Linked DNA regions of Homo sapiens. The protein of the gene in region 2 purifies or fractionates together with the protein of the main gene of each other region. This does not show direct contact. Each region holds a gene or a part of one and is shown on either strand. Other genes may lie near its edges.

What was found.
Region 1: the proteins of DNA2 (region 2) and DCAF4 purify together in Homo sapiens (co-immunoprecipitation; one large-scale study listed by IntAct). This does not show direct contact.
Region 3: the proteins of DNA2 (region 2) and SMG7 purify together in Homo sapiens (affinity purification with mass spectrometry; 2 studies listed by BioGRID and IntAct, with this or other methods). This does not show direct contact.
Region 4: the proteins of DNA2 (region 2) and WDHD1 purify together in Homo sapiens (co-immunoprecipitation; one study listed by IntAct). This does not show direct contact.

Annotation. Positions count from the first base shown.
Region 1 is NC_000014.9:72,927,109-72,935,096, reverse strand, and holds part of DCAF4 (DDB1- and CUL4-associated factor 4), read right to left. Parts: intron 5,533-7,988; exon of another isoform or gene 5,341-5,532; coding exon of another isoform or gene 5,277-5,340; exon of another isoform or gene 5,133-5,276; intron 75-5,132; exon of another isoform or gene 1-74. UniProt on the Homo sapiens protein: May function as a substrate receptor for CUL4-DDB1 E3 ubiquitin-protein ligase complex.
Region 2 is NC_000010.11:68,419,974-68,423,473, reverse strand, and holds part of DNA2 (DNA replication ATP-dependent helicase/nuclease DNA2), read left to right. Parts: intron 1-583; coding exon 584-777; intron 778-869; coding exon 870-959; intron 960-1,044; coding exon 1,045-1,249; intron 1,250-3,500. UniProt on the Homo sapiens protein: Key enzyme involved in DNA replication and DNA repair in nucleus and mitochondrion.
Region 3 is NC_000001.11:183,521,922-183,529,909, forward strand, and holds part of SMG7 (nonsense-mediated mRNA decay factor SMG7), read left to right. Parts: intron 1-4,674; coding exon 4,675-4,846; intron 4,847-5,791; exon of another isoform or gene 5,792-5,810; intron 5,811-6,034; coding exon 6,035-6,106; intron 6,107-6,970; coding exon 6,971-7,121; intron 7,122-7,476; coding exon 7,477-7,612; intron 7,613-7,988. UniProt on the Homo sapiens protein: Plays a role in nonsense-mediated mRNA decay. Recruits UPF1 to cytoplasmic mRNA decay bodies.
Region 4 is NC_000014.9:55,014,829-55,022,816, reverse strand, and holds part of WDHD1 (WD repeat and HMG-box DNA-binding protein 1), read left to right. Parts: intron 1-7,988. UniProt on the Homo sapiens protein: Core replisome component that acts as a replication initiation factor. Binds directly to the CMG complex and functions as a hub to recruit additional proteins to the replication fork.

The DNA.
Region 1 (7,988 bases), on a different chromosome or scaffold from region 2:
GTCCATGTTTGCACTCATCACTCTGCATGACTGTTTGTTCATACTCCCATCTCATACTGGACGTGAGGTGAATTCTGTAAGGCAAACATCCTACTTTGTTCTTTTTTCTATTCCTAGCATCCATGACCTAGTTGGTGCTTAGTAAATTTTTGCTGAACTGAAGCAAAGCAAAACAAAACCTGTGGCTACTTTACATTTAAGTCCCAGGTAGCTTCTTTCTGCTCTGGGTTATTTCCACTTACTACTCCACACACATTTACAAAGCGCCCACTCCATGTGAGGCACTGGGGAGTGGGCAGAGATAATAAGCTGTGCTACCTGGCTTGGAGGCACCGATTGTTTAATATGGGAGACAGATGCACAGACCAACCCCTGCAGCACAGGATAAGGATGAAGACCCAGGTCTCTCCAGGTGTGGTGGGAGAGAAGGGAGTGACTGCTCCACATGCCTGGGCTGGAGGTGGGGGAGGGAGATAAGTGCAGTCTGAAGAATGAAAATGTCAGGCAAGCCCGGCGTGGTGGTTCACGCCTGTAATCCCAGCACTTTGGCAGACTGAGGTGGGCAGATCACCTGAGGTCAGCAGTTTGAGACCAGCCTGACCAACATGACGAAACCCCAACTCTACTAAAAATACAAAAATTAGGCCGGGTGCAGTGGCTCACACCTGTAATCCCAGCACTTTGGGAGGCCGAGACGGGTGGATCACCTGAGGTTGGGAGTTTGAGACCAGCCTGACCAACATGGAGAAACCCCGTCTCTACTAAAAATACAAAAATTAGCCAGGCATGGTAGTGGGCGCCTGCAATCCCCACTACTTGGGAGGCTGAGGCAGGAGAATCGCTTGAACCCGGGAGGTGGAGGTTGCCGTGAGCCGAGATAGCGCCATTGCACTCCAGCCTTGAGCAACAGAGCGAGACTCCGTCTCAAAAAAAAAAAAAAGAAAATGCCACGTAAGGCAGTGGGGGCGGGGGGCCTGCAGGCTGTTTGGTATGGCCAGAGCCTGAAGTTCAAGAAATGGGGGGGATGAGCCTGCAGAGGCAGACAGGGCATGATCATGAGGACTCTGGGTGTGCGAGGAGTGACATGATTAGAGCTGCTAAGAAAGGGCACCTGAAAGGCAGCGGCATGGGGTGACAAGTAAGAACTGCAGTGGCAAGCCAGGTGAGATGAACTCGCTTACACATTATGGACATGGTACTTGGGATAGCGGAGCCTGGATTTAGATTTAGGCAGCAAATTTCATGGGAGAGGTGGAGAGAGGAGTTGAGAAAGGTTAAGTGAATAACTGGTAGAGTCATGAGCAGGGAGACTAAGAATAAAGGAAGAACACTTTGGGGAGAGGAGAGTAAGTCTGATTTTGAACAAATCAATCTCAAGATGCAGGCAATGGGAAATACGGGTCTGAGAATACAGAGAGAAATTGAGCCTAAAGAGACAGATTTGAAAGTAAACAGGATATGGTGACATGGACTGGGACAAATGGCACCAAAGTGGTAATGGTATACAGTGAGAATTAGAGACTTTTTTTTTTTTTTTTGAGATGGAGTCTTGCTCTGTCACCCAGGCTGGAGTGCAATGGCACAATCTCGGCTCACTGCAACCTCTGCCTCCTGGGTTCAAGCGATTCTTCTGCCTCAGCCTCCCGAATAGCTGGGGCTACAGGCGCATGCCACCATGCCTGGCTCATTTTTGTATTTTTAGTAGAGATGTGGTTTCACCATAATGGCCAGGCTGGTCTCGAACTCCTGACCTTGTGATCTGCCCATCTCGGCCTCCCAAAGTGCTGGGATTACCGCACCTGGCCATTAGAGACAATTTTATCTAGTAATAATATAAAACCCAGTATGCATCACAGTTTGTAGATCAGTGCTTCTTAAGGATTATTTTGCCCACCAGGGGACATCTGGCAATGTCTGGAGACATTTTTGTTTGTCACAGCTCGGGAGAAGGAGGGGTAGGCTGCTACTAGCGCCTAGTGGGTAAAAGCCAGGGATGCTGCTAACCACCCTACAATGCGCAGGGCAGCTTCCACACATTCTTCAGCAAGAATTATCCAGGGCTGGGTGCAGTGGCTGATGCCTATAATCCCAGCTGCTCGGGAAGCCGAGGCAGGAGGATTGCTTGAGCCTAGGAGTTCAAGACCAGCCTGCGCAACATAGCAAGATCCCGTCTCAAACAAACAACATTAAAAAAAAGAAAGAAAGAAAGAAAGAAAAAAAAATTATTCAGCTGGGTGTGATGGCTCACACTTGCAGTTCCAACTGCTTGGGAGGCTGAGGTGGGAGGATGGCTTGAGTCCAGAGTTTGAGACCAGTGTGGGCAACATAGCAAGACTCCATCTCAAAAACAACAACAAAAGAGTTACCTGGCCCAAAACAGTGCTAAAGCTGAGAAAACCTGTTCTATGTAGGAAGCACTCGAAAACAATTTGCTGGTAACATGCTGCATCTAGCACCTTTGGAGCTGCTCTAGATGTTAAAATCAGGTGTGTTGCAGAAGGTTGGGCTTGCCTTTGTCTTTCAGAGAAACTTTTAAGTACCTCAAGGCATTAAGAATTATAATTTCTAAGAGACTACTATTCTGCAAAGGCAATGTTAATCACAAATAAACACAATTTGGTTTTTTGGAAAATGACTGGAAAATATTTATCAAGTAACTTACAAATGTACATGCCTTCCTTCTGGGAACTGCTCCTACAAAAATGATTCCAAGATATTTACTACATTTTTCCGAATCATTTTATAAGGCCAGTATTACCTTGTTACCAAAATCAGACAAAGATATAGGAAGAAAAATATAGGTCAAGGCCGGGTGCAGTGGCTCACGCCTGTAAGCCCAGCACTTTGGGAGGCCAAGGCAGGCAGATCGCCTGAGGTCAGGAGTTCAAGACCAGCCTGGCCAACATAGAGTGAAACCTCATCTCTACCAAAATACAAAAAATTAGTTAGGCGTGGTGGTGCACACCTGTAGTCTCAGCTACTTGGGAAGCTGAGGCAGGAGAATCGCTTGAACCTGGGAGGCAGAGGTTGCAGTGAGCCGAGATCATGCCACTGCACTCCCGCCTGGGCAACAGAGCAAGACTCCATCTCTCAAAAAAAAAAAAAAAAGAAGGAAAAATATAGGTCAGTATGGGTTATGAATACAGAGACACAAAAATCCTTAACAAAATGCTAGCAAGCAAAATCCAGGAGCATATAAAAAGAATTATATACCAAGACCAAGCGCGATTTATCTCAGAAATATAAGGTTGGTTCAACATATGAAAATCAATCAATATACCATACTAATAGATGGGGAAAACCTCACATGATTTTCTCAATTGATACACAGAAAAAGCACTGGACAAAATGCAACATCCTCTCATGATTAAAAAAACATTCAACATACTAGAAACAGAAGGTAGTTTCCTCAACCTGATAAGGAGCATCTACAAAATACCCACACCTAACATCATACTTAGTGGCCAAAGACAAAGTTTTCCCTCTATGGTCAGGAATAAGACAAAGATGTTGGTTCTCAATACATCTGTTCAACATTGTAGTGGAAGTTTTAGACAGGCAATTAGGCAAGACAAAGAAAAGGCAACCAAACATGATCTTATATACAGAAAATCCTAAAGAATCCACCAAAAATCTACTGGACCTCACAAATGAATTCAGCAAGGTTGCAGGATACAAGATCAATATAGAAAAACCAGTTGTATTTCTATACACTGGTTCAGGCAATGAACAGCCTGAATATGAAAGAAAAGTTACATTTACAATGGCATCAAAAAGAATAAAGCACTCCTCTGGTCCTGCTCAGGCTCAGTTACAAAAAAAAAAAAAAAAAAGAGAAAAAGTACTTAGGAATATATTTAACAAAATTAATATATGGCGTGTACACAGAAAACTATAAAACACTGTTGAAAGAAATTACAGATTGAATGCAATCCCTATCAAAATTCCAAATGCCATTTTTTTAGCAATGGAAAAGCAGATCCTAAATTCATATTATGCAAGGGACCCAGAATACCCAAAATCATCTTGAAAAAGAACAAAGTTGGGATGACTCGCACCTCGCAATTTCAAAATTCATTACACAGCTACAGTAATCAAGACACTGTGTTACTGGCATATGGATAGAAATATAGATCAATGGAGTAGCATTGAGACCAGAAATAAACCCATATGCCTATCTATGGTCAACTGGTTTTCATCTAGGTGCCAAGACCATTCAATGAAAGAAAGAAGTGTCTTTTCAACTGCTGGGACATTTGAATATCAAACTGCAAAAGAATGAATTTGGATCCTTACTTCATACCATATGGGACAAAAATGAACCAAAATGGATCTCGATCTAAAACTATAAAACTCTTTGAAGGAAACAAAGGTATAAATCATCATGATCTTGATTAGGCAATGATTTCTCAAATATGACACCCAAAACTCACACACACTACATATATATATATACACACACACATACACACATAAATTGGGCTTCATCAAAATTGAAAACTTCCGTGCATCGAAAGACATTATTTAGGGCCGGACACAGTGGCTCACGCCTGTAATCCCAGCACTTTGGGAGGCTGGGACTGGCGGATCACTTGAGGACAGCAGTTCAAGCCCAGCCTGATAAACATGGCGAAGCCCCGTCTCTACTAAAAATACAAAAATCAGCTCGGTGTGGTGGCGGGCGCCTGTGGTCCCAGCTATTTGGGAGGCTGAGCCAGAACAATCGCTTGAACCCGGGAGGTGGAGGCTGCAGTGAGCCGAGATGGTGCCACTGCATTGCAGCCTGGGCGACAAGAGCGAAACTCCGTCTCAAAAACAAACAAAAAAAACTCCGTCTCAAAAAAAAAAAAGAAAAAGCTACACAAATAGCCAACTGGCACATGAAAAGATACCCAACATCATTAGTCCTTAGGTAGATGCAAATCAAAACCACAGTGAGATACCACTTTATTTATTTAATTTTATTTACTTATTCCCTCCTACCCCCCTTTTGGCTGAAGTGCAGTGGCGCGATCTCCGCTCCCGGCAACCTCCATCTCCCCGGCTCAAGCCGTCCTCCTGCCTCAACCTCGGAGTAGCCGGAATTACAGGCACGAGCCACAACACCAGGCTAATTTAAAAAATATTTTTGGCCTTCCGCCACGGCCGCCATGGAGAGCAGCAGCCATGGCTCTGCGCTACCTTATGGCCGTGGGCCTCAACAAGGGCCACAAGGTGACCAAGAACGTGAGCAAGCCCAGGCACAGCCGCCGCCGCGGGCGTCTGAGCAAACGCACCAAGTTTGTAGCGGGACATGATCCGGGAGGTGTGTGGCTTCGCTTCGTACGAGCTGCGCGCCATGGAGTCACTGAAGGTCTTCAAGGAGAAATGGGCCCTCAAGTTCATCAAGAAAAGGGTGGGGACGCACATCCGTGCCAAGAGGAAGCGGGAGGAGCTGAGCAAGGTACTGGCTGCCATGAGGAAAGCCGCTGCCAAGAAAGACTGAGCCCCCTCCCCTGCCCTCTTCCTGAAATAAAGAACAGCTTGACGGAAAAATAAAATAAAAATAAAAAATATTTTTGTAGAGACGGGGTCTCGCTTTGTTGCCGCCCAGGCTGGTCTCGAATTTCTGGCCTCCAGCGATCCTCCTGCCTTGGCGCAGCGTTGGGATGACAGGCGTGAGCCACCACGCGCGGCAGCAAATCTGAGATTTAACACAGAGAGCCAGTATGTGCCCAGCGTATGTGTATGTAGTGCACAGAATATGTGGACCACCCTCTATAAAGGTTCATGCATGAGGAGGTCGGCTCTCTCTCACAGTCTAGCAGTTTTCCACACAAAAGCGGCACACATTTTTGCACCGGTCTCCAAAATGGTGTCTGGTTTGGGAGCCCGCAGCTTCCGGAATTACAGGCTCTTTCCTGCTTCCAGGGCACCATTCCAGGCCTGGCCTCAATAGGCCCAAGGCGCAGGCCCAGAGGAGGCCGGGCGGGGTGGGGGGCGGGGTGCGCTACACCCAGTAGGGAGCAGCCCCGGGCGTCCGTGCCGCCCGCAGTGCTGGGACGCCCAACACCGACCAGCCCCGGAGCCAAGTGTGGGGGATGGCAGCCCGCACACATCGGGGCTGGCCTCGCCTCCCCTGGGAGGTAGGCTTGACAGCACAGGGGGTCGGTCCAGCCTTAGCACGGGGCCAAAACTCAGAATGGGGGAGGGGCTCCATCTCCCCTTGGGGCTCTCCAGTTTGGGGGCCTCGGGGCTGTTCTGGTTTCCAGGCTGAGCCTCACCATCTTGTTTAGCACATGGTTAGGGGGCCTGGACTGGAGCCCAACAACCGGGGCTCTGAGACTGGGGCACCCTGGGGCCGCGGGGTTGCTTCTTGGGTGGATGAGAATGTTCCAGAATTAGACAGTGGTGATGGTTGCACAATCTTGCCAATATAATAATAAAAAAACCCACTGGATTGAACCCTTTTAAAAAAGTTAATTTTAGGGTATGTGAACTATATATATATATATATATATATATATATATAAAGGATGTTTACTACACCATGCTGTAATAGTTAAAGTGAGAAACATCCTAGATATCCAACAACAGGGGAATTTTGTAAGAGTCTGTAGACTGGCCGGGCGCGGTGGCTCATGCCTGTAATCCCAGCACTTTGGGAGGCCGAGGCGGGCGGATCACGAGGTCGGCAGATATGTGAGACCATCCTGGCCAACATGGTGAAAACCTGTCTCTACTAAAATACAAAAAGTTAGCCGGGCGCGGTGGCGTGCGCCCGTAGTCTCAGCTACTCGGGAGGCTGAAGCAGGAGAATCCCTTAAACCTGGGAGGCGGAGGTTGCGGTGAGCCGAGATCGCGCCACTGTGCTCCAGCCTGGGCAACAATAGTGAAATTCCGTATCAAAAAAAAAAAAAAAAAAAAAAAGTGGGGGGATTCTGTAGACTAGCGGGCTGTAATGTGCAAAACGCTAACGCCACTGGTCTGTAAAGCTGAATACAAAGTAGCTTCTACAGGCCAGGGCGGTGGCTCACGCCTCTAATCCCAGCACTTTGGGAGGCTGAGGTGGGAGGATAGCTTGAGCCCAGGAGTTCAAGACCAGCCTGGGCAACATAGTGAGACACCCCTCCGCCCCATCTTAACAAATAATTTAAAAATTAGCCGGGTGTGGTGGTGCATGCCTATAATCCCAGCAGTTAGGAGTTGTTCACTGTAAAACAACATTTTAGACAGCTGACTTAAAAAACAACAAAATTTTCTCTTAACACTTATTTAAGAAATACTTCAGGCGCAAGCTTTGTACTAACGCCCACCCTGAGTTGGTATTTTCAATCCTATTTTACAAATGAGGAAACAGGCTTACAGGACTAGGTACCACACCCAGCGTAAGTTAAATGGTGGAACAGGGATTCCACCTCTGTTGGTAGGACCCCCAGGCCTGGTTACCCACAGAACACCACCTCAGGCCGGGCGCGGTGGCTCACGCCTGTAATCCCAGCACTTTGGGAGGCCGAGGCGGGCGGATCACGAGGTCAGGAGATCGAGACCATCCTGGCTAACACGGTGAAACCCCGTCTCTACTAAAAATACAAAAAATTAGCCGGGCGAGGTGGTGGTCGCCTGTAGCCCCAGCTACGCGGGAAGCTGAGGCAGGAGAATGGCGTGAACCCCGGGGGCGGAGGCTGCAGTGAGTCGAGATCGTGCCACTGCACTCCAGCCTGGGCGACAGCGAGACTCCGCCTCAAAAAAAAAAAAAAAAAAAAAAAAAAAAGAACACCACCGCGACTCTAATTTCCATCGTTATTTAAAATCAGAGTTTGGGACTTTGGAATTGTTTCCTCTAGGAAGCCGTCCCCTCAGTTTTCTTTGCTTCTGGCTGCGCTGCTGGAGTCACAAGACAATGCCTGTAGAACACCATGGTGAAAGGCGTCATGGTTTCTGAAGCCCCCGGGGAGCCCACGAGGCGTGGCTTTCTCGCTAACTCACAACTCAGAGTGGAGGCGAGG
Region 2 (3,500 bases):
AGACTTTGGTTGCAGCTGTTTTTAGCACCCACTGGTGTGCCGTGGCTCCTTCAGTTCCAAATCTGGGATCTATGAGGCAAAAAGAAAGCCCAGGGAATCAACTACTGTGTTGTTTCTTTGGTCCTGAGCTCCCTAGCTGGTCTGCCTTCTCTCCACCTTTCAGAGTCTTCTTTTGTTTTTTTTTTTTATATATAATGCCTAGGGATTTTAGTTGTCGTTTGTGGAAAGAATAAGGAAAAGTACTCCATCTTCCCAGAAGCAAAGTCCTGGTTGACATTAAACAAACAAACAAACAAACAAAAAAAGAACTAACTTATTACCTCTTGAATGTTCCAGATTTCCACTGGGAAATATCCAAATGTGAGCATTGTTCAATAGTGTCTGGAAAGTTTACTTGATTATTTTTAATTTGTAGAAAAAAATTAAAATTTGCATGCTATAAATATTTCAGAATTAAATAATATCGAAGGATTCCTGATGCCATAGAACAAAAACCTTTTGATCTTTTCATTTCAAAAATGAGAGAAACAAAACTACATTTCTTTTACATGTTAAATAACTGATCTGTTTTCCTTGTTTTTAGCTTATAGTTGCAACAACATGTATGGGAATAAACCATCCAATATTTTCCCGTAAAATTTTTGATTTTTGTATTGTGGATGAAGCCTCTCAAATTAGCCAACCAATTTGTCTGGGCCCCCTTTTTTTTTCACGGAGATTTGTGTTAGTGGGGGACCATCAGCAGCTTCCTCCCCTGGTGCTAAACCGTGAAGCAAGGTAGGCAGACACTTAAGTGTTAATTTTAAACTAGATTATTTTCAAGGAACAGATTTAGTACACTGATAAACATGAATCTGATTTATTGACAGAGCTCTTGGCATGAGTGAAAGCTTATTCAAGAGGCTGGAGCAGAATAAGAGTGCTGTTGTACAGTTAACCGTGCAGTACAGAATGAACAGGTATTTGTAACAGTGTTAGCTAGGAGTGGTTTTCATGTTTGTTTCCATCTACCAAAACTAAAGTTATCTTTTGTAATTCCCTTAGTAAAATTATGTCCTTAAGTAATAAGCTGACCTATGAGGGCAAGCTGGAGTGTGGATCAGACAAAGTGGCCAATGCAGTGATAAACCTACGTCACTTTAAAGATGTGAAGCTGGAACTGGAATTTTATGCTGACTATTCTGATAATCCTTGGTTGATGGGAGTATTTGAACCCAACAATCCTGTTTGTTTCCTTAATACAGACAAGGTAAAAAAAAAAATTTCTGTTTAGTTTTTCTCATTTTGTCCTATTATTTAAATTTCTCAGTTTTCATTAGCACATGCCCTAATTAGAGCTTATCAGTTAAAAGGCAAAACTAGGCTGGGCGTGGTGGCTCACACCTGTAATCCCAGCACTTTGCGAGGCCAAGGCGGGCAGATCACAAGGTCAGGAATTCAAGACCAGCTTGGCCAACATGGTGAAACCCTGTCTCTACTAAAAATATAAAAAGTAGCTGGGCATGATGGTGGGTGCCTGTAATCCCAGCTACTCAGGAGGCTGAGGCATGAGAATTGCTTCAGCCCGGGAGGCGGAGGTTACAGTGAGCTGAGATCACACTGCTGCACTCCAGCCTGGGTGACAGAGCAAGACTCCCATCTTGGGGGGAAAAAAAAAGGCAAAACTAATGTACTTCTCATACTTCAACCCAAAATAGTCTTTTCTTTCTTTTTCCTTTCTTTTTCTTTTTTTGAGACGGAGTCTTGCTCTGTTGCCCAAGTGGCATGATCTCGGCTCACTGCAACTTCCTCCTCCCAGATTCAAGCGATTCTCCTGCCTCAGCCACCCAAGTAGCTGGGATTACAGGCACCCACCACCACACCAGACTAATTTTGTATTTTTAGTAGAGACAGGCTTTCACCATGTTGGCCAGGCTGGTCTTGAACTCCTGGCTTCAAATGATCCGCCTGCTTCAGCCTCCCAGAGTGCTGGGATTATAGTGTGAGCCACTGTGCCCGGCCCAAAATAGTCTTTCTTTCTATAGGCCCAGTATTTTTTGGAGGAGGTTTATTCTGGAGGTCAGTAGATATCAAAATTGACTTTTGAAGAAGGAAGGCCACAAAGTGAACTCAGGGGTATAATTCTATTTCCTAGAAAAGGAAATGGCACTGATACTATCAAAGGGCTGGGTTTACAAATGGACAGAGGGTATAATAAATTGATGTCCTTTTAAAGACTTTTTAAAAAACAGACTTTAAACCCGGGCACAGTGGCTCACTCCTGTAATCCCAGTACTTTGGGAGGCCGAGGGGGGTGGATCACTGGGGTCAGGAGTTCGAGACCAGCCTGACCAACATGGCAAAACCCTGTCTCTACTAAAAATGCAAAACTTAACTGGGTGTGGTGGTGCGCCTGTAGTCCCAGCTACCTGGGAGGCTGAGGCAGGAGAATCGCTTGAACCTGGGAGGCGGAGGTTGCGGTGAGCCGAGATCGCGCCACTGCACTCCAACCTGGGTGACAGAGTGAAACTCCATCTCAAAAAAAAAAAAAGCTTTATTTTTTAGAGCAGTTTTAGGTTCATAGCAAAATTATGTGGAAAGTACAGAGGTTTCTCATAACCTCCCTCCCCCACATATGCACATGAAGACCTTTTTACAAACCAGTCATTAAAAAGAAATCTGCACAACGACTTTTTTGTTTTTGTTTTTGTTTTTTAGGATGGAGTCTTGCTCTGTCTCCCAGGCTGGAGTGCAGTGGTGCAATCTCCTGGTGTCTCAGAAAAAAAAAAAAAAAATCAAGATTGCTTAGGGATGATGTAGGAGGAAAGTAGTCTTTGAAGAGATGTATCAGGAGGTAGGACAGCAGTTTTATCTGCTCCATTATTTGTATAAAAGGGGACAAGAAAATGGAAAGAGCACAGATATACGACCCAGATCTAAGTTTGTTTGTTTGATTCTGAGACGGAGTCTCACTCTGACTCCCAGGCTGGAGTGCAATGACACTGTGTCAGCTCACTGCAACCTCCGACTCCCAGATTCAAGCAATTCTCCTTCCTCAGCCTCCTGAGTAGCTAGGATTACAGGCACGCACCACCACGCCCAGCTAATTTTTGTATTTTTAGTAGAGACGGGGTTTCACTGTGTTGGCCAGGCTGGTCTCCAACTCCTGACCTTGTGATCCGCCTGCCTCAGCCTCCCAAAGTGCTGGGATTACAGGCGTGAGCCACCGCGCCCGGCCACCCTAAGTTCAAATAGTAGTGCCACAGTTTATTGTGAGGCCTTGGGAAAGTTACTTATTCTTTTCTGCCTTTGATTCCTGTAAAATGGGGGATAACAAAGTGAAGTATTTGAAGCTCAGTGTGTGATCAGCTTTCGTAGGTATTTTAGCCTCAATCATAGCATGTTTCAGATAGGTGGCCTCTGCGTGGCTTTCTGAAAGTGACTAATATTAATATTCATTTTTGTTGATTCTTTCACCTTCATCTTTTAGACAAAGCTATTTTTCATCTCCAAGTCGGTAG
Region 3 (7,988 bases), on a different chromosome or scaffold from region 2:
ATGATCAGATTTGCATTTTTAAACGATAACCCTGGATAAAGGGATCAGCTATGGAAGCTAGCTATGGAAGTTAACTCTATTAATTCCTGTTGGCCATACTTGGATTAGATGGATTGGATTGAATTTCTGGAATCAGAGTAAAGGAGGAGTCAAAGCAAATACAATTATCAGTGTGAGCAGCTAGTCGAGTGGTTGTACCATTTACTGAGATGGGAAACACTAGGGGGAAAGTAGCTTTTTCCCTATTAAAGTAGATGCCTGTTTGACATCTAAGTAGAGATTTGAAATAAGCAATTGAATAAACAAGGTTGGAGCCCAGTGGAAACATCATAAAATCATAAAAATTTTATGATTATAGTAAAGAACCCTGACTTAGTCAGATGGTAACAGATTTAGCACAGGAGGAGCCACCATTGCAATCAAGAAAATGAGAGAGAGAAGGTGCCTTGGAAGCCAAGAGAAAAACATCTGAATAAGGAAGGGAGTCATCAGCCCTGTTGAGTGCTGCTGAGAATTAAAGTAAGATTTAAAGTGACCAATTAGGTTTGACAACATGAAAGTCATTGGTGAACTTAATGAATACCATATTTCTTCATTTCTGAAACTTTTTTTTTCATATTTTAACATATCTGAAATAGAGATAAGTTTATAACAGATGACAAGTGACCATATAACTTGTGGTTTTTTCTCAATATTATATAAGATGATGGTTCATCTTATAATTTATGGTGTCTTTGTATTGATGAAATGTAACTTCAGCAGTGTTGGGGATAGAAACCTGATTAGAGTGGATTGAGAAGAGACTAGTACTTGGTTATCCACAGTAACATTTTCTGTGAAGATAGTTTTTTAGTTTTTTGTTTTTTTTTTTTAAAGACAGGCGCTCACTCTATCATTTTGGCTGAGTACGGTGCTTAATCATAGCTCACTGAAGCCTCAGACTCCTTGGCTCAAGTGATCCTTCCCCACCTCAGCCTCCCAAATACCTAGGACTACAGGCTCATACCAGCTACCTTTTTTTATTTTTTGTAGAATGGAGTCTCACTATGTTACCCAGGCTGGTTTAGTTTTAACTTCTTAGCTACCATTTTGTTAACCAGTTAAAGCATGGGGCTTAAAGCAGAACCAAATTCCTGGTCAAAGTAAAGACATACCATTCTGCTGTAGGTTGTTTTTAAACATCAAAGAACAGAACGGTAGCCTTTATTCTAAGAAAATAGGAACCAAAAAGAAAGTATAATCACTGAGTTTCTGTATTAGTTTAAAAGGTAATATTCTATACCTTCATAATCAATCTTTCATTCTTGGCATGGAATAAAGAGCTGAGGAGACAAGAGATAGTGTAAAAATTGATAAATAGGAACCCAGAAACTGTTCTAGTACTGCTCTAGGGCTAATTGTGACTATTTGGACAAGTCACTACCTCTGTGGTGCTTAGCTTTCTGATTGTAAAAAAGAGAGTTGACAAATGCTTATAGGTTCATTTTCCAGTTTTATAGTTCCATGATTATAATTTGGGAAGAACTAGAGGCATTAATATTCAGCTACAGCCTTAGGAATATCTCCCAGTCAATACTTCTGTATAATGAAGTAACTAAGTTCTTATCAGACTGAGGAAACTACTACAAAGTAATGTACATCAGGGTCAACCTATATGAAGGTAGGACATTGTTTTGTTCAATTTATGAAACATCCTTTTCTCTTCTTTAGTTCCATCTTGTTACTGCCTCTAAACCAACTAGAGCTCTCTTTCTCAGAATCTTTGAGCCAGTAGGAGCTTTTCTGTCTGATATCACCACTTAAACTCTTGGGCTCAGGCAGAAATTTTATTACAAGACATTCTACATGATGTTCCAACCATAATTTTATTTATTTTTTGTGATCTTTCTTTTTTGTTTTTGCTAGATGTGCAGCCTTGCCTAGTTTTCCAGTCTGTTTTTTCATTACCTATTGAAGTCAGTTCTTTAACCCTCTCATGTTTCTTAGTTATCCACTTTTGTTTTTTGTTTTTTTCATAATATATATGTAGGTATATATATATTTACATATATATATTTTTTTTGTTCCTGCCCTGTGCCTTGTGCTTTTTCTATTTCTTAACCCATCCCGTTCAGGACATTAACTTATTTACCCTGTTTTTTTATGTATTCATTTTATTTTATTTTATTTATTCATTTTTTAAGACGGGGTCTCTCTCTGTCACCCAGGCTGGAGTGCAGTGTATATCATAGCTCACTGCGGCCTGGAACTCTGGGGCTTAAGTGAGCCTCCCGCCTCACCCTTCCAAAGTACGGGGACTATAGCACTGCATGCCACCACACGTGGCTAATTTTTTGTTTCACTTTATTTTCATTTTTATATTCATTCATTTGTTTATTTTGTAGAGACAGATTCTTGCTTTGCTGTCCAGGCTGGTCTTGAACTCCTGACCTCAAGTGATCCTTCCGCCTTGACCTCCCAAAGTGTTGGGATTACAGGCATGAGCTACCATGCCTGGCCTTGTTTACCCAATTTTATGTTAGTGAATTTCTTGCCCATTACAAATGTACAAGTAAAGATGGAGTAAATAATTTCCATGCCCAGTGAGAAAGGGTGCGCAGAATTTATATTTAGTTATGGAGGTGATTTTTATCTTAGGAAAAAGGTGGCATGATTCAGATCCTTCTGAGTTGAGCCCTTAGGGTGTCTTATTTTGTATTTTGAATTCTGTACATGCTAGAAAGAGTGGTGATAGAATCAAAATATTTCTAATTCTATAACCTTAGTCCAGTCGCTTGATTATTTCTGCCTTCACATCCTCATCTGAAAAAAATTGAGCTTTATATCTATGTATACTGTGTTGCTACTAGTTTATCACAAGGATAAAGTGAGACAAATTTATCAGATAACCTAGGGAAATAAGTTACGTTATAAATGTAGAATATTCTGTTGGTTATATTGTGTGTCATGTTGTCTGTCCTTCTCTCCTTTCCCTTTTCCCTCTCCCTCCCTCTCTCCCCTCTACTTCTCTTTTTGTACCTGACTTGCCCATTTAGCTACAAGCTCATGAAGGAAACATATTTTCTTACTTGTCTTTGTATCTTTCTTGTTTACTGGGTGTCTGATATACTAGCACATACTTGGATGAATATAATAATATTTGAATGACGATATTTGTAAGTAAATATTTGAATAACTGTGAAGTAAATATTCTTCACAGTGTGAAGAACTGTGTGCGGGGCAAGAAATAAGCCCTTGGCAAGCAAAGTGAGAGGAGAAAAGCCTTTCTATGAAGGAGACTGAAAAGGAGTGATTGGAGAGATGACAGAGAACTAGAACAGCTCAGTAATCAACCATAAGATCAGATGTTTTAAGTGCAGCAAAGAGGTCCAATAAGATGATGTCTGAAAAATATCCGTTGTATTTGGCTATTAGGTAACCAATTGTCTGATAGTAGTTTCAGTAGAGTGGTAATGGATGGTTGGGTGAGAGGAGGGAGAGGGGTTGTGTGGAAGCCAGATGATAATGGATTAAGGAGTAAATAGAAATTGAGAAAGCAGATATGAAAAGTGTGGACTCCTTTGAAGGCATTTGGTTGAGAAGAAGGAGAGACATTAAAAGGTTGCTATAAAGTCAAGAGGAGAGTGTTTTAGCTCTGTTTTGTTTTTTGTTCTTGTTTTTTTCTGTGGGAGACGTGGTGTGTAGGCCATAGGAAAGAAGCATGAAAAGTTGACAGTAGATGAAAGAATGGAGAGGTGGGAGACAGACAGGAACCAGAAAAGAATGTAGCAATAGGCACACATAGGCAGAAGAGTTAGCTCTGACTAGGAAGAAGAGCCCCTCATACTTTAAGAACAGAGAAGAGAGGAGGTAGGAATGGGTGATACAGTAAAGGTGTACACTACGGTGAGATTCGTTGTATATGCAAAGACATGTGAATTGGCATACAGCTTAAGAAAATAAATTGCAAGAAATACCTAAAGTCTGACAAATACCTTGGCTTACATTTAAGTCAAATTTGTAACCAATATTTAATAATTTTTGGGTTTCTGAGAGTAGTAGCTTTCTTTGCTTGCTTAATGTGTCTGAAAATCGTGTCTGAAAATCCTATCCAGTTAAATAATCTTTTTTTAAAATGCTGCTGTATGCACATCCTAGATTGCTGTAATACTTGAGAATTCAAAAGGTATGATTTATAATGAATGATACTAGTTATCCTGTGAAAGATTAACGTATAATATATATATATATATATATTTTTTTTTTTGGAGACAGTCTTGCTCTCTCACCCAGGCTGGAGTGCAGTGGCGTGATCTCGGCTCACTGCAACCTCCGCCTCCTGGGTTCAAGCGATTCTTGTGCCTCAGCCTCCCTTGTAGCTGAGACTACAGGTGCTCACCACCACTCCCGGCTGATTTTTTTTTTGTATTTTTAGTAGAGACGGGGTTTCATCATGTTGGCCAGGCTGGTCTCAAACTCCTGAGCTCAAGTGATCCGCCCGCCTTGGCCTCCTAAAGTGCTGGGATTATAGGCGTGAGCCCCTGTGCCAGGCCCGAAAGATTACCATATAATTTTCATGCAGTTTTTGTTCAGATTTCAGCAGTATGTGGTACTAGGTACACATCTTACAGTTTATAAACTTTACTTTTAGAGCACTTGTGACTTACTACTAAATTTTGTTTGTTTTTCTTTTAGTTATTACAAGAACTGTGTACAGTATTTAATGTAGATTTACCATGCCGTGTGAAGTCTTCCCAATTGGGAATTATCAGCAATAAACAGACGCATACCAGCGCCATAGTGAAGCCACAGTCTAGCTCCTGTTCCTATATCTGCCAGCACTGCCTCGTCCACCTTGGAGACATTGGTGAGCCTTTGCTGTGAAGGAATTGATAATATGTTCCTCCTTTTCTTTGGAATAGTCATAGAAAGAAACTGTTTTCCTTTAAGCGGAGCATACACACACAATTTAGATTGTCATAAGAAGAAACTATAAAATGTATTCTAAGGAACTTAAAATTTCTCAATATTTTTGGGATTGGCAGAGCATCGTGAAGAAAGTAACTTTCATATTAAGATTTAAATTTTATTCCAACTTTATGTAATTTATATAGGCAAATAATAAACAGCAAAAACATAATCAAAGCTTAATTTTTCAAAGTGGTGCCATAATTTCTAAATTAAATGTACTCTTCTGGAATAAATGAGGTTTATAAATTACTCCTGAAGCGAAATTGCCTTCTTTCTTTCTTACCAATGGACTAAAAGTTGATTTTTAATTTTGCTTCCTTTTTAAAGTTTAATTTGTATTTCTATTATTTGCATTTTATCTGGGAATATTATATAACTTATTTATTCTTGTTCATTCCTTTAAGGTGACCTAGAAAGGTTGTAAAACAAATTAACTATAGGATTATGTTTTGCTTGTCCTCAAATAACAAAGAATGGAGAACATTACTGCTTTTAAGTTTGAAATTTTAGATTTCTTAATATTGTAAGTCAGCGGTTCCATGAGGAGGTCACATCAGAGTAAGCAGTGAGTTTGGCAGGGAGATTCATTGATACTGTGTTTAGGTTGTTTTGCTTTAAATATAATCTTTGCACACACATATTTAATATTGCAATAGGAATGAGACATTTTTCAAAATCACTTTATAAAATATTGAAAAATACATAATTTTCAGATCATATTGTATAGTGTATTTTGTTTTGTTTTGTTTTTAAGTGCCATATAACTCACCCCTTCTTGTGGGCCGGCTCCAGGTCACCAGCATAGTCCATAGTGGGAGCTGGTGATGCATGACACTGGAGGACCTGAAAATGGGGTCTAGGTAAGCTTTAAAATTGGTTACATGCTGAATGTCCCAAATAAGGAAGGCTGATGGACACTTCACACATAATCCTATAGTTAATTTGTTTTAAAGTATTTTGTCTTTAATTTTAAATTAACTTTAATGTCTTTATTATCTTTAGAACTTAAAACTATAGCTGTTTTGGAAATACTACCCTACTGTTTGTTTTTTGGGTTTTTTAAAACTAATTTTCTTCTTCTTAGCTCGATACAGAAACCAGACCAGCCAGGCAGAGTCCTACTATAGGCATGCAGCTCAGCTTGTCCCCTCCAATGGTGAGTGGACCTGTCAACCTGAGATTGACCGTGACACTTTGTTCTTTATAACAATGTGGCAGATAACTCAGGGCTCACCTTTGAAGTTTTATGAAAGCAATAAATGAGTTTTGTTATTGTCATGTTTTTCCATTTAACTGTACATTCCATGTAAACTAAAATGAATTTTTTTTACAAGTAAGATGACTTTTATTATTTATTTTATTTTATTATTTATTATTGTCAGTAAAGCAATATAGATAGAATCTCTTAATGTAATCTGATATTGTTTCTACAACTCTGGCTTCCTTAATTGCTTATAGAATAATTATTTCTTTAGATACCACCATTCCCCTCCCCCCAGAAAAACAATCTATTACCTAAAAGATAATCTTTTAATGGCCCCAAACTAGGCATTAGCAGTAGTTCTTGAGTTACAGAAATTACAGCAGATATTTAATTATTTAAATCATTCTTACTAAGACGTTGAAATTCCTTTAGATTCTAGAAAGAGTCTAAAGCAGGGATGATAGTCTGACCACACTACTTGTTTCATATTTGTTTATGGCTGCTTTCACACTACAGTGGCAGAGTTGAGTGGTTGTGATAGAGACCCTTTGGCCTACAAAACTGAAATTATTTATAATCTAGCCCTTGCTGAAGCCGCTCTCTACCCTAATATTGACTGTTTAACCTGTATATGATAGTGTGTACTGTCGCTGAAGTGTGCTGTTGGACCTTACGCTGGTTTGCAATGAGGCAGTCATATTTACCTTATAAAAATACTCCCCATTGTTTGAGTATTTAAACACTGATCATTTGTATTCTTATAGCAAGACTTTGTCACTCTTGGGGTTACTCCAGAATCTTAACTTTCTCCTGTAGGTCAGCCTTATAATCAGTTGGCTATCTTAGCTTCTTCCAAAGGAGACCATCTGACCACAATTTTCTACTACTGCAGAAGCATTGCTGTGAAGTTCCCTTTCCCAGCTGCCTCCACTAATCTGCAAAAAGCACTTTCTAAAGCACTGGAAAGGTAGGGTTGTTTGGTTTTTTTTTTCTCTTTCCAAGAGGACTTTGTAACCTGGAGCCTTAATTCCTCATAATTTGGTTTACAGAAAATAACGGCCTATGCTTCTCTTATTTCTAAACATATAGATTTTTCATAATTTGTGTATAGTCACTGAATTTCATCCAATCAATATCTGATTCAGTCCCAGTAAAAGAGTACACAGGCTGTTAATACTGACTCATCTTGAGTGTGTTGCAGTTGAAAAATCAGTCAAATACAGCTCTTTTGTGTATCAAGTATTTAGCAAGCCAGTGCCTCCTTAAACAGTTGTAGCCAATTTGCTGCTTATGATTCATGGAATTTTTTTCTTTCATTTCAGCCGAGATGAGGTGAAAACCAAGTGGGGTGTTTCTGACTTCATCAAGGCCTTTATTAAATTCCACGGTCATGTGTACCTGAGTAAGAGCTTGGAAAAGTTGAGCCCTCTTCGAGAGAAATTGGAAGAACAGTTTAAGGTTAGATTTCAGAAATAGAGAATTTTTGTCTTGTCTAAATCAGGAAGCATAACATTTGGAGGAAACTGACTCCCAGTTTTTGTAGTTACTTAACTGTGTGAACTATTGGTAAAAATTATATTCGAAGTATGTGAAATCTTTGCATTTATCATCCCTTCAATTTAAACTGAGGTACAGTCTGTATAAACAAATATAATATAGCAGTGTTTTCACTTGAGTAGTTGCCATTTGACAAAAATTATCAAAGTGGAAAAAAATAAATAACTCCTCAGTTTTGAAACTACTACTACTTTTGATGGTTTGTGTATTCTTAGATATGATTATGTTACCTGCTTTATAGATATTGGCATTCTCCAAACCAAGTTCATTATTTTTA
Region 4 (7,988 bases), on a different chromosome or scaffold from region 2:
AAGGGTCAAGATGGCAATAGAATCAGCTTCTGCTGACCAAGAGACAGCAGATTCCCAGACACCATTACGAAAATCATTGAGGAGAAAGGACATCTGCCTGAACAGGTTTTTTGTTTGTTTGTTTGTTTTGTTTTTTTGAGATGGAGTCTAGCTGTCTCACCGGCTGGAGTGCAGTGGCGCGATCTTAGCTCACTGCAACCTCCGCCTCCTGGGTTCAAGCGATTTTTCTACCTCAGCCTCCCGAGTAGCTGGGATTACAGGCATACACCACCACACACAGCTAATTTTTATATTTTTAGTAGAGACGGGGTTTTGCCATGTTGGCCAGGCTGGTGAACAGGTTTTTAATGTAGACTAAAGTGCCCTATTCTGTGGGGGGAAAAATGCCACAAAGAACATTTATTAGTAAGGAAGGAAAGTGAGCACTAAGATTTAAGGCAGGAAGGCTAACTCTAATGTTTGGTGCAAATACAATCAGATTTGTGATCAGAACTGCCATTATTTATAAAGCTACTAACCCCCGGGCCTTGAAGGGAAAAGATAAACTCCAGTCTCTTAGTTGTATAACAAAAAGACCTAGACAATGAGAACCTTCTTTTCTGGATTGGTTTCACTGATGCTTTGTGCCTGAAGTCAGAAAGTATCTTGCTAGTAAGGGACTGCCTTTAAAATTCTTTTAATGTTGGGCAATGCCCCTGGCCACCCAGAACACCATAAGTTCAATACTGAAGGTGTCAAACTGGTATACTTGCCCCCAAACACAATGTCTCGAATTCAACCTCTAGATGAGGAGTTCATACAGGCCTTTACGGGCTCATTACATAAACTAATCTATGGAAAGGATTGTCATTGCTATGGAAGAGAACCCCAGTAGAGAGAACATCCTAAAAGTCTGGAAGGATTATACCATTGAAGATGCCATCATTGTTATAGAAAAAGCTCTGAAGGCCATCGAGCCCGAAACAAATTCCTGCTGGAGAAAACTGTGTCCAGACGTTGTGCATGACTTAAGATTGACAGCAGAGCCAGTCAAGGAAATCATGAAGGAGATTGTGGGTATGGCAAAAAAGATAAGGGAGCGAAGTAATTTCAAGATATAGACCTTGGAGACATTCAAGAGGTAGCAGACATGGCTGGGCGCGGTGGCTCACACCTGTAATCCCAGCACTTTGGGAGGCCCAGGCAGATGGATCACTTGAGGTCAGGAGTTTGAGATCAGCCTGGCCAACATGATGAGACCCCGGTCTCTACCAAAAACATAAAAAATTGGCTGGGTATGTTGGCATACGCCTGTAATCCCACACTCCACCTTCTCTCAGGAGGTGGAGGTTGCAGTGAGCCGAGATTGTGCCGCTGCACATTCCAGGCTGGCCAACAAAGCAAAACTCTGTCTCCAAAAAAAAAAAAAAGGAACGCTAATAGACACTAAACCGAAGAGTTAGCAGAAGACAATTTGATAGAAATGAGTTCTTCCTAACTACTGCCAAGTGATAAGGAAGAAGATGTAGAAGAAGTAGTGCCAGAAAACAAATTGACTTTAGGCAATCTGGCAGAAGGGTTCTGATTATTCAAGACTGCTTTTGACTTATTTTACAACATAGACCCTTCTATGTTATGAGCACTGAAACTAAAGGAAATGGTGGAAGAAGGATTGGTACTGTATAGAAACATTTTTAGAGAAATTAAAAAGGAAAAGAGTCAGACGGAAATTATGATGTGTTTTTATAAGGTCACACCAAGTATGCCTGCCTCTCCTGCCTCCTCCTCTACTTCCTCCCCCTCTTCCACCTCTGAGACAGTAAGACCAACTCCTCTTCGTGTTCCCCGTCAGCCTTCTCACTGTGAAGACGATAAGGATGAAGACCTTTATGATGATCTACTTCCACTTAATAAATAGTAAATATTTTTTCTCCTCTTTATGATTTTCCTGATATATTTTTTCTCTATATTGCTGTATTGTACAGATACAGTATATAATACATAGACAAAATATGTGTTAATTGTTTATGTTATCAGTAAGGCTTCTACTCAACAGTAGGCTGTTAGTAAAGTTTTAGGATAATCAAAACTTCTATGTGGATTTTTGACTGTTTAGGGGTTGGAACCTGTAATGCCCATGTTGTTCAAGGGTCACCTTTACATCTTTGGCTGATACCTTCCAGAGTTCAGGGTTGAGGTTCTGGCTAAGAATATAAATGTGAGAATTGTCCTTATAAACATAATATTTATTACTGTGAACTTGGATGAAGTCACCTAGGGAAGGAGTAAATATAGGTAAGAAAAGAGGTTCAAGGATACTCCAAAATATTTAGAGATCAAGTTAAAGAGGATCCAGCTAAGGAGACTAAGAAAGAGTAGCTAGAAAAGTAGAGAACTGAAAGACAAGAAGGATGTTTAGAAGCCAAATGAAGTGTTTGAGGAACAGGAAATAATAGACTCTGTCAAATGCTCCTGGTGAGTCAGGTTGAAGACTGAGAATTCACCATTAGATTTAGCAATGTGGAGGCCATTGGCAAGTTTTATGGAATGGTAAGAATGAAAACCTTGAAGTGGATTCAAGATAATGGAAGGGGAGGAATTTGAATTAGTGAGGTTGACACTACGTGGTTTTGATTTTGTCTCTAGTACCAGTGGGGTATAGAAAGTAATCAGTCACTACTTAAGAGGGCTGAAGAGGAAGCAGTGACCCCAGAAGAATGACCAGAAAGAAAGCTGAGTATATAGAGATTTTGCTTGTGCCTCACCATGAACCTCATGAGACTCAATGATTAAGAGTCAAGAAGAGGTGGTCAGATTAGGGAAGGAATGTTGCTCTCTGAGGATAGAGTTGAGGTAGTAAGAAATGCGTTGGTAATCATTGACTCCTTGAGGTTATGTCATAAAGCTGATGAAGTCTTGATATAATTAATCTTCATGCCCAGACACTGATAGCGGATTTCTTTTTTGTTGAGATGGAGTCTAGCTCTGTCGCCCAGGCTGGAGTGCAGTGGCACGATCTCGGCTCACTGTAACCTCTGCCTCCTGGGTTCAAGTGATTCTCTCTCCTCAGCCTCCCAAGTAGCTGGGATCACAGATGCCCTCCGCAACAGCTGGCTAATTTTTGTATTTTTAGTAGAGACAAGGTTTCGTCATGTTGGCCAGGCTAGTCTTGAACTCCTGACCTCAATTGATCCACCAGCCTTGGCCTCCCAAAGTGCTGGGGTTACAGGCATGAGCCACCACACCCCGCCTTACTCTTTATTATTTTAAAGTAAATCCCATACATCTTATAACTAAAATCTGGTTTATTGGGGGTAGAACCTAGTAGAACAATGCTTTAGCAAGAGTCATGAATCAAAAAAGAGAAGGCACAAATAAAATAATATTAGAGATAAAAAAGGTACAATATAGGCTTCAAAATACGTGAATACATTGACACCCTTATGCCAATAGTTTTGAAAATTTGAAACAAAGGTATAATTTTCTAGGAATATGTAAATTAACAACTTACCCAGTTTACCTAAGAAAAAAATAAAAATATTTATTTACATTGATTATCCAAACATTAAACATATGATCTAAATGTTAACATATGTAAGATAATCATTTCTGGTACATATTTATGTGCTTTAATCAGTTTCTTAGCCTGTCTGTCCCATGGTATTGCTGATATTTTTCTGAAAAATATATTTTTAATACAGTGTTATTTTAATTTTTCTCATAAAAAATTAGCTGTAGCCTTGTTTAGAGTTGCATTTTATGCTGAATAAATTTGAAGTTAAATCTTCAATTCTTTTCTTTTTTTTATTTGTTTGAGTCAGAGTTTCACTCTTGTTGCCCAGGCTGGAGTGCAATGGCACCATCTCGGCCCACTGTAACCTCTGCCTCCCAGGTTCAAGCAATTCTCCTGCCTCAGCCTCCCAAGTAGCTGGGATTACAGGCATGCGCCACCATGCCTGGATAATTTAGTATTTTTAGTAGAGATGGGGTTTCTCCATTGTTGGTCAGGCTGGTCTCGCCTCCCAAAGTGCTGGGATTACAGGCGTGAGCCACCATGCCTGGCCTAGACTATAATATTTTTTAATGAGAAAAATGTTAGGTTCTAAGGTACTTGGCAGGCTCAGAGCAAATTCTACTAGCTGGGAGAGTCATAATTTTTAAGAATTTGTTTTAATTGAAATGGGTAAATACTTCAGCCTCAGTATTTTTATAGGTTCTGTCTTTTTATCTCCATTCAGGGTACACTTCTTCAATAATAGGGTCTTCACTGTTTTTAAGGACAAAATTCATCAAGTTGTCTATGATTCTTTTGGATGTTTCACAGATTTTAAGCCTACTCTTTTATTTCATTCTGGCACAGAACATAAATTAATACAATTAAAAATAGGAGTTCTATCAAAATATTCTTCCCACAAGTCAAGATATTCCAAAGTACAGTTACAGAATTTTAAAATGAAATCATTCACCATTTCAGCTTTTCATGTACAATTTGTTCAATTCTTATTTGCTTTTGTAGGGATAAATTTCAGTGTCTTCCTGTGCATAAGTTTTGTTTTCATGAATTGCATTTCACTAAAAGCTTCAAAAGCTTAAGTTTAATGCTTTGATTAAAGATGTCTGTTTTCAACTAAATGCAACTAAGATTTAGAGGACTTGTTTCTAATAATAATAATACCATTATTACAGTAGGACACTTAGGTTGTTTTACAGAGTCGCTCGCTCTTCAAAGGCTTAAAGATTTTAAAAACCCAATCACTCCAAGCAGAGGGAGAAAGTATGTCCTGCAATGCTAGTATTTTTTGTGTATTTAATTAACATCGGTTTGTGCGCTGCTGAGGTGGGAGGATTGCTTGAGGCCAGGAGGTCTAGTAGTTTTTCTGTATATCACATTGATTTGTGTGCAGCTGAGGTGGGAGGATTGCTTGAGCCCAGGTCAAGCCTGCAGTGAGCCGTGGTAGGGCCACTGCACTCCAGCCTGGGCAACAAAAACAGAAACAAAACATGTTTTTTTCAAAAATTCTGTTGTTCAGCAATTCTAGATATAAATAAAATCTGAAAATTTGACAAGTATGGCTTCTTTTTTGTTGGTGTGTTATCTTGCAGCTCATTTGGATAGAATCATGAATTGTAATTCCAAATTCAAGTACTTTTGTGTTTCACAGATTTCCTAATATAGTAAGAACATTGATTTTTCTGGCTGGGTGCAGTGGCTTACGTCTGTAATTCCAGCACTTTGGAAAGCTGAGGTAGGTGTATCACTTGAGGTCAAGAGTTCGAGACCAGGCTGGCCAACATGGTGAAACCCCATCTCTATGAAAATACGAAATTTAGCCAGGTGTGGGTGGTGCGTGCCTGTAATACTAGCTACTTGGGAGGCTGAGGCAGGAGAATCACTTGAACCTGGGAAGTGGAGGTTGCAGTGACCCGAGATGGTGCCACTGCACTCCAGCCTGAGCAACAGAGCAAGGCCCTGTTTCAAAAAGAAAAAAAAAGAATATTGATTTTTCCTACAGCACTGTAGAAAACAATAAAATTAATATGTAGTTATTTGATACAATAAAGGATAAAACCATTTAGAAGAATGTTTAGACTACTCTAAAAGCACTTCTTTCGCAGGACTGCTGAACGCTATTTCCTGCCAAAGTTTGTATTTGTATTACTGTAAAAATTAAGAATTTTATCATTAGTGTTAAACTTTTCAAATAAATTTAGATAGAATCCCCACTGATGTCAGATATTTCACTTTCAGCAGAATGAACTTCCAGAAGATTTACTTTGTTTCCATGAACTGAAGAGTAAACTAAACTATTATTGGAATTAATACGGGCGATTTTCTATTTAAAACTCCTGATGACATTGATATAATACTTTTATCATTTAACTGTTTGAAAGTTCTTTTGCTGTCTATGGCCATACCACCCTGAACGCACCTGATCTCATCTGAAAGTTCTTTTGATAATGGAGACAACCCATTAACAGTCACTTCACTTTTTATGCTTGCACCAGAAAACTTGGAATGAAAAATGAACAAAATTATTTTAGAACAACTGACATTTCTTTTAATGCTGCGCTGTCCAATACAGTAGCTACTAGCCACATGCAGCTATGTAGGTTTAAATCAATTAAGGTTAACTTCGTTAAAAAGTCAGTTTGTCTGTCACATTAGCCACATTTCAATTGCTCAGTACCAGGTATAGACCATTTTCATCACCTCAGAAAGTTGTTTTGGAGAGCACTGAGTTCTTAGGAAGAATCATGCTTCACAAGATATAAATCACCTTCTGCAGGAGTAGAATCACAGTTTTTAGGCAGCCTTCTCAAGATAACTACTAACTTGAATAGATACTGATGCTTCTTCGGGACTTCTTTCTCTTCTAATTTTCTTGTGGTTGGTGTTATCACTATAGTATGACTGTAGCCCCGTGGTAAATGTCAACAAACATTTTATTCAAGTTATATTTTCATTATCAACTTTCCTGAGAAGAAGAAATTTAGTATTTAATCTTTTATTAAATATGTACTTGATATACTTTTTTAGCTCATTACCACTGAAAGGGTTGTGTTGGTTTTCATTTTTTTCCCAAAATTTCAAAAGCATAGCAATCAATAAAATTAATATGTAGTTAGTTATTTGATACAATAAAGGACAAAACCATTTAGAAAAACATTCAGACTACTCTAAAAGCTCTTTAGAAGATTGCTTAACTCTATTTTCTGCCTTTATTTCTTATTAATTCTACTATATTTCACTATAATTTTCCATTGGTCCCACCAACTGGCACCTGTAACTTTGTACGTCTCCTCCAGTGCATCTGCTGATACACCAAGAAGCCCATCGGGGCTGGGTGTGGTGGCTCATGCCTATAATCCCAGCACTTTGAGAGGCCGAGGTGGGTGGATCACCTGAGGTCAGGAGTTCAAGACCAGCCTGGCCAACATGGTGGAACCCCATCTCTACTAAAAACACAAAGATTAGCTGGGTGTGGTGGCGCACGCCTGCAGTCCCAGCTACTTGGGAGGCTGAGGCAGGAGAATCACTTGAACCCGGGAGGCAGAGGTTGCAGTGAGCTGTGATAGCACCACTGCACTTCAGCCTGGGCGACAGAGTGAGACTGTGTCTCAAAAAAAAAAAAAAAAATTCCATTGGAACAAAAACGTGAAATACTTCTCTCATCACCATTGGGACTGAAAGAAGTAGCTATCCCTAGGGTCTTACATCTGAATCCATTCCGTTTTTTATTGAATGCCTCACATGTTGTCCCCGAAAGGATTTGTTAGTCACATTGCATCAGGAAAGGGTAGGAAAAGGGGAGATAGCTTATCACTAGTCATTTTACAGATTTAACCATGTGTTATGTGTGTTATGTTACCAAATGAGACCATGGCAGAAGCTGGAAGTACAAAGAAGAGGTCTGCCAAACCCACCCTAGCCTTTTTTTTTTTTTTTTTTTTTTTTTTGAGACAGTGTCATGCTGTTTCCCAGGCTACAGTAGTGCGATCTCGGCTCACTGCATCCTCTGCTTCCTGGGTTCAAATGATTCTCATGCCTCAGCCTCTGGAGTAGCTGGGATTACAGGTGTGCACAGCACTATGTCTGACTAATGTTTGTATTTTTAGTAGACTCAGGGTTTTGCCATGTTGGTCAGGCTCCACCCTAGCCAATTTTGATGCAACTAATACTAATATGTTTTAAAGTGAAAATTCCTGGACAATGCCAGGCCAGTTGGACACATAAACCAGGAGTATCTCAGGCAAACTGAGACTTATAGTCCTCCTATCTACTCTCTATAGAAGGGAGCCTAACCACCTTACTCTGGCATTAAGGTTATTCTAAATAGGTGACCTAGACTTCATTTTCCTTTTTCTTTCCTGGCTTGTCTGCTCCAGGTAAACTCCCCCATGCTGTATTAACTATATTTTTTTTCATGTGGTTTTCTCTGGAACTGCCCTTGTCACCAGTCTTAGCATATCTAGTCCTGCTTGTTCTTTGACTTCCCAGTGTAAATACC